3 linked regions of the Homo sapiens genome follow. The protein of the gene in region 1 purifies or fractionates together with the protein of each later gene. This does not show direct contact. Each region holds a gene or a part of one and is shown in the gene's direction. Other genes may lie near its edges.

What was found.
Region 2: the proteins of RHBDF1 (region 1) and ADGRG5 purify together in Homo sapiens (co-immunoprecipitation; one large-scale study listed by IntAct). This does not show direct contact.
Region 3: the proteins of RHBDF1 (region 1) and TMED5 purify together in Homo sapiens (co-immunoprecipitation; one large-scale study listed by IntAct). This does not show direct contact.

Annotation. Positions count from the first base shown.
Region 1 is NC_000016.10:60,049-62,736, reverse strand, and holds part of RHBDF1 (inactive rhomboid protein 1), read left to right. Parts: intron 1-41; coding exon 42-199; intron 200-684; coding exon 685-939; intron 940-1,040; coding exon 1,041-1,152; intron 1,153-1,277; coding exon 1,278-1,352; intron 1,353-1,455; coding exon 1,456-1,617; intron 1,618-2,197; coding exon 2,198-2,298; intron 2,299-2,457; coding exon 2,458-2,521; intron 2,522-2,638; coding exon of another isoform or gene 2,639-2,688. UniProt on the Homo sapiens protein: Regulates ADAM17 protease, a sheddase of the epidermal growth factor (EGF) receptor ligands and TNF, thereby plays a role in sleep, cell survival, proliferation, migration and inflammation. Does not exhibit any protease activity on its own.
Region 2 is NC_000016.10:57,559,559-57,563,210, forward strand, and holds part of ADGRG5 (adhesion G-protein coupled receptor G5 isoform 1 precursor), read left to right. Parts: intron 1-2,497; coding exon of another isoform or gene 2,498-2,535; coding exon 2,536-2,599; intron 2,600-2,825; coding exon 2,826-2,901; intron 2,902-3,532; coding exon 3,533-3,652. UniProt on the Homo sapiens protein: Orphan adhesion G-protein coupled receptor (aGPCR). Ligand binding causes a conformation change that triggers signaling via guanine nucleotide-binding proteins (G proteins) and modulates the activity of downstream effectors, such as adenylate cyclase.
Region 3 is NC_000001.11:93,170,299-93,173,950, reverse strand, and holds part of TMED5 (transmembrane emp24 domain-containing protein 5 isoform 1 precursor), read left to right. Parts: intron 1-3,652. UniProt on the Homo sapiens protein: Potential role in vesicular protein trafficking, mainly in the early secretory pathway. Required for the maintenance of the Golgi apparatus; involved in protein exchange between Golgi stacks during assembly.

The DNA of each region.
Region 1 (2,688 bases):
CTTCCTGCCTGTGTCCACCCTGACCTCATGTGTTTGCTCAGGAAGGTATCCTCCATGAAGAGCTGTCCACATACCCGGATGAAGTTTTCGAGTCCCCATCGGAGGCAGCGCTAAAGGACTGGGAGAAGGCACCGGAGCAGGCGGACCTCACCGGCGGGGCCCTGGACCGCAGCGAGCTTGAGCGCAGCCACCTGATGCTGTGAGTGCGGCAGGCAGGGAAGAGGGGCAGAGAGAGACCCCGGGGCCCGTCAGGAACAGCTGGGCGAGTATCGGCATTCACCTCTGTGGGCGATGGAAGGGGTAGCCTCAGGGACTGGGAACTCACTACTCACTGGGCCACCAGGGGTGGGAGACGCAGAGCTGGGCATGGCCCCAGTCTCATGGCTTGCCTGTGGAATGGGACAGCAATCTTAGAACCCAGGGGCTGGGCAGAATCCAACGGGGAGGCGGAGGTGACAGAGGTGATACTTGCTGAGTTGCAGAAGTCAGTGTGTCCCCGTTCCAGCTCCCTGCCATCCCCGGAGGCCCGCAGTGTTGCTTTTTTACTGGCAAGGAGAAGGCAGATGCCGGGCGACTTGCGCAGTATATTCGCCAGGATAGAGACAGGGTGCCCTGGTGCCCCCCGGGGAGGGACTGCAGCAGTTTGCGGGGCTGGGGCGGGAGGTGAATGCCGGCTCCCTCCAGGCCCTTGGAGCGAGGCTGGCGGAAGCAGAAGGAGGGCGCCGCAGCCCCGCAGCCCAAGGTGCGGCTCCGACAGGAGGTGGTGAGCACCGCGGGGCCGCGACGGGGCCAGCGTATCGCGGTGCCGGTGCGCAAGCTCTTCGCCCGGGAGAAGCGGCCGTATGGGCTGGGCATGGTGGGACGGCTCACCAACCGCACCTACCGCAAGCGCATCGACAGCTTCGTCAAGCGCCAGATCGAGGACATGGACGACCACAGGTAGGCGTGGCAGGCAAGGCCTGGGTTGGGATGGAGGCTCCCGGGGGAGGGTGGGGGCTCCGGGTCGGGGATGAGGCCCCCGCTGACGCTCCACCCCGCAGGCCCTTCTTCACCTACTGGCTTACCTTCGTGCACTCGCTCGTCACCATCCTAGCCGTGTGCATCTATGGCATCGCGCCCGTGGGCTTCTCGCAGCATGAGACGGTGGACTCGGTGAGCCCCTGTGCCTTCCCTGGGCCCAGACGAGTGGAGTCCGGGCACTGGACCCCCTCCCGACCCGCTCTGGGAGGAGAGGGCCAGAGTCGGGGCCCGTCTGATCCCGCTCCCCAACCTCCCAGGTGCTGCGGAACCGCGGGGTCTACGAGAACGTCAAGTACGTGCAGCAGGAGAACTTCTGGATCGGGCCCAGCTCGGTGAGGACGGGGCTGGGGGCGGGGCCGGCGGGGGCGGGACCTGGAGGTGCCCGGCGGGGGCAGGAGGCCCCGGACTGCGGCCGCTCGTCTCCCTCGCCCGCAGGAGGCCCTCATCCACCTGGGCGCCAAGTTTTCGCCCTGCATGCGCCAGGACCCGCAGGTGCACAGCTTCATTCGCTCGGCGCGCGAGCGCGAGAAGCACTCCGCCTGCTGCGTGCGCAACGACAGGTCGGGCTGCGTGCAGACCTCGGAGGAGGAGTGCTCGGTGCGTTTCCCCGCCCGGGACTCCCGCCTTCGTCTGCCCGGTGTTCGCTCTTCAGACCTCAGATAGACTCGGCAGAGTGATCCTTCGCCCTCGTTCCTGGCACATCCCGCCGTCCTTACGCGCAAGGCCTTGTCATATTCATTCCTCCTCATCCCCACCCTCCCCCATCTCCAGCTCCTCGCCCCGTAGACCATCATCTGATTTGGTCTTTTGATTTGGGTGTACTCTTCCAGCATGTGTCTTAAAGCTTACATAAGTGGTATTTGCCTCTTTTCCACTAAGCAATTTTTAAAAAAATTCATCCCAACTTTCATCACATCATCTTATGTGGAAGTGCCGTAGTCCATACCAGTTCCCTGATTTAGGACACAGAGGTTGTTTCTGATTTTCAGCTAACAGGAATTATGCCGTCAAACTCCTTGTAAGAGTCTTTTCCAACATGCACGTGCATCTCAAGAGTGGGGGTGACTTGTAGAAGCGGAGGGAAGAGCTCAGTGGTTTTGCCTTCGACTCCTGACTCCCTGCGTGCCCCTCATTGCCCTGACCCAACTGGACCTGACCCTGTGTCCCCCTCCCACAGTCCACGCTGGCAGTGTGGGTGAAGTGGCCCATCCATCCCAGCGCCCCAGAGCTTGCGGGCCACAAGAGACAGTTTGGCTCTGTCTGCCACCAGGATCCCAGGTTAGTCCTGCCGGCAGCTCTCTCACCTGCCTTTGTCCACACCTTCCCCGGGGGCTGTGGTGCAGAGGGTGTAGGGGCTCCTCTTGTTGGCGACTTGGCTGGAAGGGTGCCAATGCTAGGGGCTCGAAGCCGGTCTGACCACATACTTGGCTCATGCAGGGTGTGTGATGAGCCCTCCTCCGAAGACCCTCATGAGTGGCCAGAAGACATCACCAAGTGGCCGGTGAGCTGCAGTGGGGGGGTTGTTAGGGAGCCCTCCGTGTCATGTGGGAGAGAATGCCACACCCCACCCACTGGTGATACCAGAGATTCCCATCATGGGACCACCTCACGTTTTCAGAGGCTGTGCACCTGCCCTTTGTACAGCCTGTCCATCAACCAGCGCCTGCC
Region 2 (3,652 bases), about 57 Mb from region 1:
CCATTAAGATTTCATTAAGATACTAGTCATTTTCTCCTTATCTACTTTTGCGGCAACTACCTATTCCTCTGTGCTCTGTCAAACATGAAACAGATCATGTGTTTCATCCATCAAAGATAATGTGTTCTAGTTACCTCCAGAAACCAGTTTGCTTGGTGGCCTGTGACCCCAGCTCTCCAGTAGGCTAAAAAAAAAAAAGATTTTGTATATTATTTGGCTTTCCCATTGTTATGATGGGAACAATACTCCCATCTGACTCTCTACTTTCTAGGTGGAAATCGAAATCATCTTAATATGGTTTTTACACAATTAAAAAAACTCCTGTTCAATGTTTCTATTATGACTATATGCATTACATTCCATATTAAATCATGTAGCGGCATTTCGTTTTCTTGTACAACTTGGTTTTCTTGAAATTAATTGCTTCTTTTTATTTTTGCATTTATAAACTTCGGTAAGACATCTCAAAAAACAATTTTTCTAGATGTTCAAACCTATTCGATAGTCTATCTACTCTCCTTTTCCTCTTCCTTATTTTTTTCTTGAAGACCTCCCTCCCAGGGCATTCTTTTCTCCTGCTCCCTCCGGATGGGAAATGCCCTAGTCCTGCTGTTCAGCATCAACCCGGGCCTTCCCTTCACACATTTTCTGGGGAGTAGCTTTACCTCTCCCATGGTAGGATACAGGGTTTCCTGTACCCTGTGTCTTCCTTCATGATATACTTTCTCATTTTGTTGGAGCACATCCTCCAGCAGCTTCTCAAGAAAGGATGTGTGTTTTGAAATTCTCAGTAATCCTTGGTTGACCATTCAAGAGAGGAGCACTAAAAACCTAATTGCTTGGCAGAGCTTGGTGACTGGTGAAATTTCACTGTAAGTTAGGTCTTGGCCATAACATTGAGGAACACAAAAATGGAAGTAGCTATAGGATACTATTCTTGGAATGGTTAGCTCCTCAGAGACTTTTCTCCTGCCTTGGGGCATAACCCTGGTTGCTGCAGTCTTCTGGAATCTGAGTGGGGGAGGATGTGGGGAGGGGATATTGCTTAATTCCCCCTTCTGTTCTGATTATGGTGCATCCTCTCTCCAGAGAGTAAACTTTGTGTGGAGCAGGATTGGGGATGGTAGGATGGTGAGGAAACTCCTGAATACTGGAGGTGGCAGGGGAGATCTGGGGACTGAGTTGGGCATTTTAAAGACTCACAACCAACAAACTCTGTTTTTATTTTTATTTTTTATTTTTTTGAGACAAGGTCTCATTCTGTTGCCCAGGCTGGAGTGCAGTGGTATGATTTTGACTCACTGCAGCCTCCATCTCCTGGGCAGGATCCACCTCACCCACCTGAGTAGCTGGAGACACAAGTGCAGGCCACCATACCCAGCTAATTTTTGTTTTCTTTTTGTAGAATCAGGGTTTTGCCATGTTGCCCAGGCTGGTCTGGAACTCCTGGTCTCAAGCGATCCTCCTGCCTTGGCCTCCCAAAGAGTTGGGATCACAGGCATGAGCCGCCATGCCTGGCCAACAATCGCTGTTTTTAGCCTCTTCCTTCATCCCCTCTTCAGAGGTTACTGATGCCCCCAGTTCTCAAGTGCTTCCAAGGTTGTGAGGCTTCTCCTTGTCTCCTGCCAACACCACACCTCTCCCCACTGCAGGCACTTGGGTTCAACTTTTTTTGGTCTGCTAAACGTCTTACCAGGTGCCACCTACTTGTAGCCTCCAAAATTTAGCTGACATCTCCCATCTCTGCAGTTGTTTTCTTTCCCATTGTTCTGTCTTTGTGCCTGTTTTCTAAGGAGTAGCTTTACCTCTCCCATGGTAGGGTACAGGGTTTCCTGTACCCTGTGTCTTCTTTCATGATTTACTCTCTCATTTTGTTGGAGCACATCCTCCAGCAGCTTCCTGAGAGGCTTTGTGCCTCCTTTCTTCCCCATTGTACTGTTTTTCATGCCTCTTTTCTTTCCCATTGTTCTGTGGCTTTGTGCCTATTTTATTCATTCCCTCTCATTTTAGTGGGGCTTTAAGGGGCAGACATAAATTTGCTCTATTGAAGCAGAAGTTTATTAGTTCATTTTAAAATGGAGGAAAATGAGGGCAGAGGAGAGACAGATCCTACCCAAAGCCGCACGATGAGTTAATGGCAGGGCTGGATGGGGTTTACCTGTTGCTTTCTCCCAAACACCGTCCCCCTGGGTAGAGACTGGGATCCTGGGGAAGCCCCCAGAAAGACTGCTTTTTGGGAAGGGGAGTGTATCAGGCGGAGCTGCTAATGGCAGCCATTACTTGGTGGTCAAGGATTCTGGAGTCTTAGAGACCTGGCTTTAGGCAGGTTTAAGTAAAGCAAGACCCTTTGCCCTTCATCCTCAGCTTCCTCATCTGTGAAATGCAGGAGTGGTGAGTCAAATAAGATGCTGCATGTCCTACTCTTGGGACATGCCAGACACCTAGAAGTTAGAGGTTGCTCTTTTATCATCATGGTGATGGCATGCACCTTTTTCAGGGCCGGAGCCAGTTCTTGGAGGAGACTCTGCACAGGGCATGGATCACTGTGGTGCCCTTTTCCTGTGCCTGTGCCTTCTGACTTTGCAGAATGCAACAACAGGTAAGGGGGCTCTGCTGAACTGGGGGCAGCCCTAGCCCAGTCGTGGGACTGTGATGCAAAAGGGGGAGGCGTCAAACCATGGGAGATTGAAAAGGGCCACTTAGGCTTCCTGGGGGCAGCAGGAGCTGCTTGTGAACTAGACTCTCAGGGTGGGATGGAAAGCCCAGAGGTTGTGGGGCCAGAGGGCAGTTGAGACACAAACTGAGGGGGAGGTGTGTCCCCACAGAGACATGGGAAGAACTCCTGAGCTACATGGAGAATATGCAGGTGTCCAGGGGCCGGAGCTCAGTTTTTTCCTCTCGGTGAGTTGGATGTGCCTCCCACCCCAAGCCTGCACCTTGAATCAGTGGGTCAGGGTTAGTCTAATGTAGACTCTTAACTGTGCATTTCTTCAGCACTTTTATTGAGCACCTACTGCATGCCTGACACTAGGCTCTGGGGATGCAGGATGGGCATGTCACTGCCCTCATGAAGTTTATCATCGAGGAATGGGGGCCCTTAATCATAGATGTCATGACACTAAGTGCAGAATTATGGGTCTCCATGCATTTTCCTGGGAAGGGGGTCTAAGATTCTGGCTGGGCTCTCCAGGGTCTATGACCCAAAGACTGAGCAGCTCTAGGTGAGCGGCCAATGCTGAAGACTGGTCAGGGCTAAGAGTGGCTACTGGGAAGCTGTGAGGGAGCAGTCAGGGAAGGCTTCCTGGAGGAGGTGACAATAAACTGGGACCTGAACAGGAGTTAATCAAGAGGAGGGGATAGATGGGGTAGGGAGGTAACAGTGTGCCAAGGACACTGTGTGTGCAGTGGTCTGGAGGTGCGTGTGACAGAGGTGTGGGTGGGGAGGCCCTGCCCTCCCAGGCTGTCTACAGCCCCCTCTCACCCTTACCCCACTCCGGGCTCTGGCCTCCCTGGCCATCTCTCTGGGCTGCAGTCAACTCCACCAGCTGGAGCAGATGCTACTGAACACCAGCTTCCCAGGCTACAACCTGACCTTGCAGACACCCACCATCCAGTCTCTGGCCTTCAAGCTGAGCTGTGACTTCTCTGGCCT
Region 3 (3,652 bases), on another chromosome or scaffold:
TTGTAACTCTATTGAATGCCTGTTGTCATTCTCCTAGATGTGAACTCTTCCACACCTTTTCCCATACTCATAAAAACATATAGGGTTTGATGGGGTGAAACACATATGATTATTTAATTAAAATGTCATGGTCTTTAAGTCCTTACAAAGTTTTTACCAATAGGTAAACAAACCAAATCAGTTTTTAATAAGGAAGTCTATTGGTTCATATAACTGGAAGTCTGAATAGGACTGATTTCAGGCTTAATTTGTTTTCCTCTGGTTCTTACGGCTCTGCTCTCTTGACTTTTCTTAAAGAATTGAATTACTTAAAGAATTCTTCACTGACAGATATTTTTCCTAAATGCATCAAAACTAGTATTTTATTGTCTTCTGACTTCGATTATAGCTGTTGAAGCTTCCTGTCAGTTTGTTATATATTTGTAGTTCATCTCTATTTTCTCTTGTAGCTTTTTAAATTTTCTGCTTCTGCATTTTCACTGCAGTTTAAGTGGATCATCCAAGCTTCTTAATCTCTCATAATTTCTCTCTTTGTCTCACTCTCCTATTTTATGGATAATTTCTTCAGCTCTATCTTCTACATCATTAGCTTTAAAAATTTATTATCAGTATTATTTTTGATTGGCAAATTATAATTGTATACATTTATGCGGTATAGCGTGATGTTTTGATACATATATACAACATGTAATGATTAAATCAGGCTAATTAACATTGCCTTGCCTATAATTTTTTATGATGAGCTATTTGAAATTCAGTCTCAGTTATTTTGAAATATACATTATTATTGACCATAGTCACCTTCCTGTGCAATAGATCTCAAAACCTATTCCTTCTGTCTATCAGAAACTTTGTACTCTGTGATCAACAGCTCCCTATTCCCTCTCTCCCCAAGTCCCCCACCCCCAGCTTCTGGTAACCATCGTTCTACTCTCCACTTTTAGGAATGGAACTGTATGGAATTCTAGGAATTCCACATATGAGATAATGCAGTATTTGTCTTTCTGTCCCTGGCTTATTTCACTTAGTGTAATGTCCTCCAGTATTCCATTGTGTATCTATACCACATTTTCTTTATTCATTCATTAATGGACACTTAGGTTGTTTCTATGTCTTGACTATTGTGAATAATGCTTCAATGAATATGGGAGTGCAGATATCTCTTTTACATACTGATTTCAGTTCCTTTGGATGTATACCAGAAGTGAGATTACTAGATGATATGGTAGTTGTATTTGTGGTTTTTTGAGGAACCACCATATTGTTTTCCATAGGGCTGTACTAATTTACATTCCCACCAACAATGTACTAATTTGTTTTTTCTTTTTTGAGATGAGGTCTTGCTGTGTAACTCCGCTGGTCTCAAACTCCTGGGCTCAGGATCCTCCCATCTCAGCCTCCTGAGTAGCTGGGATTACTGGGATTATAGATCTTGTACATATTTTGGTAGATTTGTACCTAATTCTTTTTTTCTTTTTTTTTCTTTTAGTGCTAACGTAAATGGTATTGTATTTTTTATTCCCAACTCCAGTTGCTTGTTGCTGGTGTATAGGAAAGCAGTTGACTATTGTATGTTAATATTGTATACTGAGACTTGGCTATCATCACTTATTAGTTCCGGGACGGGTTTTTTTTTGGCAGTTCTTTAGGATTTCTACATGGACTATCACAAGGACAGTTTTATTTCTTCTTTTCCAATAGGTATGTCTTTTCTTTCCCTTTCTTGTTGTATTACATTAGCTCGAGCTTCCAGTATAGTGCTGAGTAGGAGTAATGAGGGAGTAGCATCTTTGTCTTGTTTCTGATTTTAGTGAGAAAGCTTCTAGTTTCTCGCCATTAAGTGTGATCTTAGCTGTAGGATTTTTGTAAATGTTCTTAAGTTGAGGAAGTTCCCCTCTATTCCTAGTTTGCTAAGATTTTTTTAATATTAAATATCATGGATTGATATTGGATTTTATCAAATATGTTTTCCATACCCATTGCTGTGATCATCTGAGTTTTCTTCCTTAGCCTGTTGATGTGATGAATTACACAAAATAATTCATGAATGTTGAGCCAGGCTTATATACTTGGAACAAATCCATCTGGTCATGGTTGTAATTCTTTGTTTACATTGTCGAATCAGCTTTGCTAATATTTTGTTGAAGATTTTTGCATCTGTGTTCCTAAGAGATACTGGTATGTAGTTTCCATTTCTTGTAATGTCTTTTCTGGTTTTAGAATTAGGGTAATGTTGGCCTCACAGAATGAGTAAAGAATTGTTCCCTCAGCCTTTATTGTCTGTAAGAGATTTTAGAGAATTGGTTTCATTTTGTCCATAAATGTTTGGTAGGATTCACCATTGAAACTGTCTGGTCCTGGTCCTTTCTTTTGGGGGAGGTTATTAATTATCAGTATAATTTCTGTAACAGATACAGGCCTATTCAGGTTATCTATTTCTTGTATGAGTTTTGGTACTTTATATCTTTCAAGGAATTGGCCTGTTTCATCTAAGTTTTCAAATTTGTGGGTATAGATTTATTAATAATGTTCCACTGTGTCCGGAATTGGCGGGTTCTTGGTCTCACTGACTTCAAGAATGAAGCCGCGGACCCTCGCGGTGAGTGTTACAGTTCTTAAAGGCAGCGTGTCCGGAGTTTGTTCCTTCTGATGTTCGGATGTGTTCGGAGTTTCTTCCTTCTGGTGGGTTTGTGGTCTCGCTGGCTCAGGAGTGAAGCTGCAGACCTTTGCAGTGAGAGTTACAGCTCTTAAGGTGGCGTGTCTGGAGTTGTTCGTTCCTCCTGGTGGGTTTGTGGTCTCGCTGGCTTCAGGAGTGAAGCTGCAGACCTTCGTGGTGAGTGTTACAGCTCATAAAGGCAGTGTGAACCCAAAGAGTGAGCAGCAGCAAGATTTATTGCAAAGAGCAAGAGAACAAAGCTTCCACAGTGTACAAGGGGACCCCAGCAGGTTGCCACTGCTGGCTGAGGCAGCCTGCTTTAATTCTCTTATCTGGCCCCACCCACATTTCGCTGATTGGTCCATTTTACAGAGAGCTGATTGGTCTGTTTTACAGAGAGCTGATTGGTCTGTTTTGACAGGGTGCTGATTGATGTGTTTACAATCCCTGAGCTAGACAACAAAAGTTTTCCACTAGATTAGCTAGATACAGAGAGTGTGGATTGGTGTATTTACAAACCCTGAGCTAGACACAGAGTGCTGATTGGTGTATTTAAAATCCCTTAGCTAGACATAAAGATTCTCCAAGTCCCCACCAGACTCAGGACCCCAGCTGGCTTCACCCAGTGGATCCCGCACCTGGGCCGCAGGTGGAGCTGCCTGCCAGTCCCATGCCGTGCGCCTGCACTCCTCAGCCCTTGGGCGGTTGATGGGACTGGGTGCCGTGGAGCAGGGAGTGGCGCTCTTCGGGGAGGCTTGGGCCGCGCAGGAGCCCACAGTGGGGGGCTGAGGGGAGGCTCAGGCATGGCGGGCTGCAGGTCCCAAGCCCTGCCCCGCGGGGAGGCAGCTAAGGTCCTGCGAGAAATCGAGCACAGCAGCTGCTGGCCCAGGTGCTAAGCTTCTCACTGCCCAGGGCTTGCAGGCCGGCCGGCCGCTCCCAGTGCGGGGCCGCGGAGCCCACGCCCACCCGGAACTCGAGCTGGCCCGCAAGCATCAC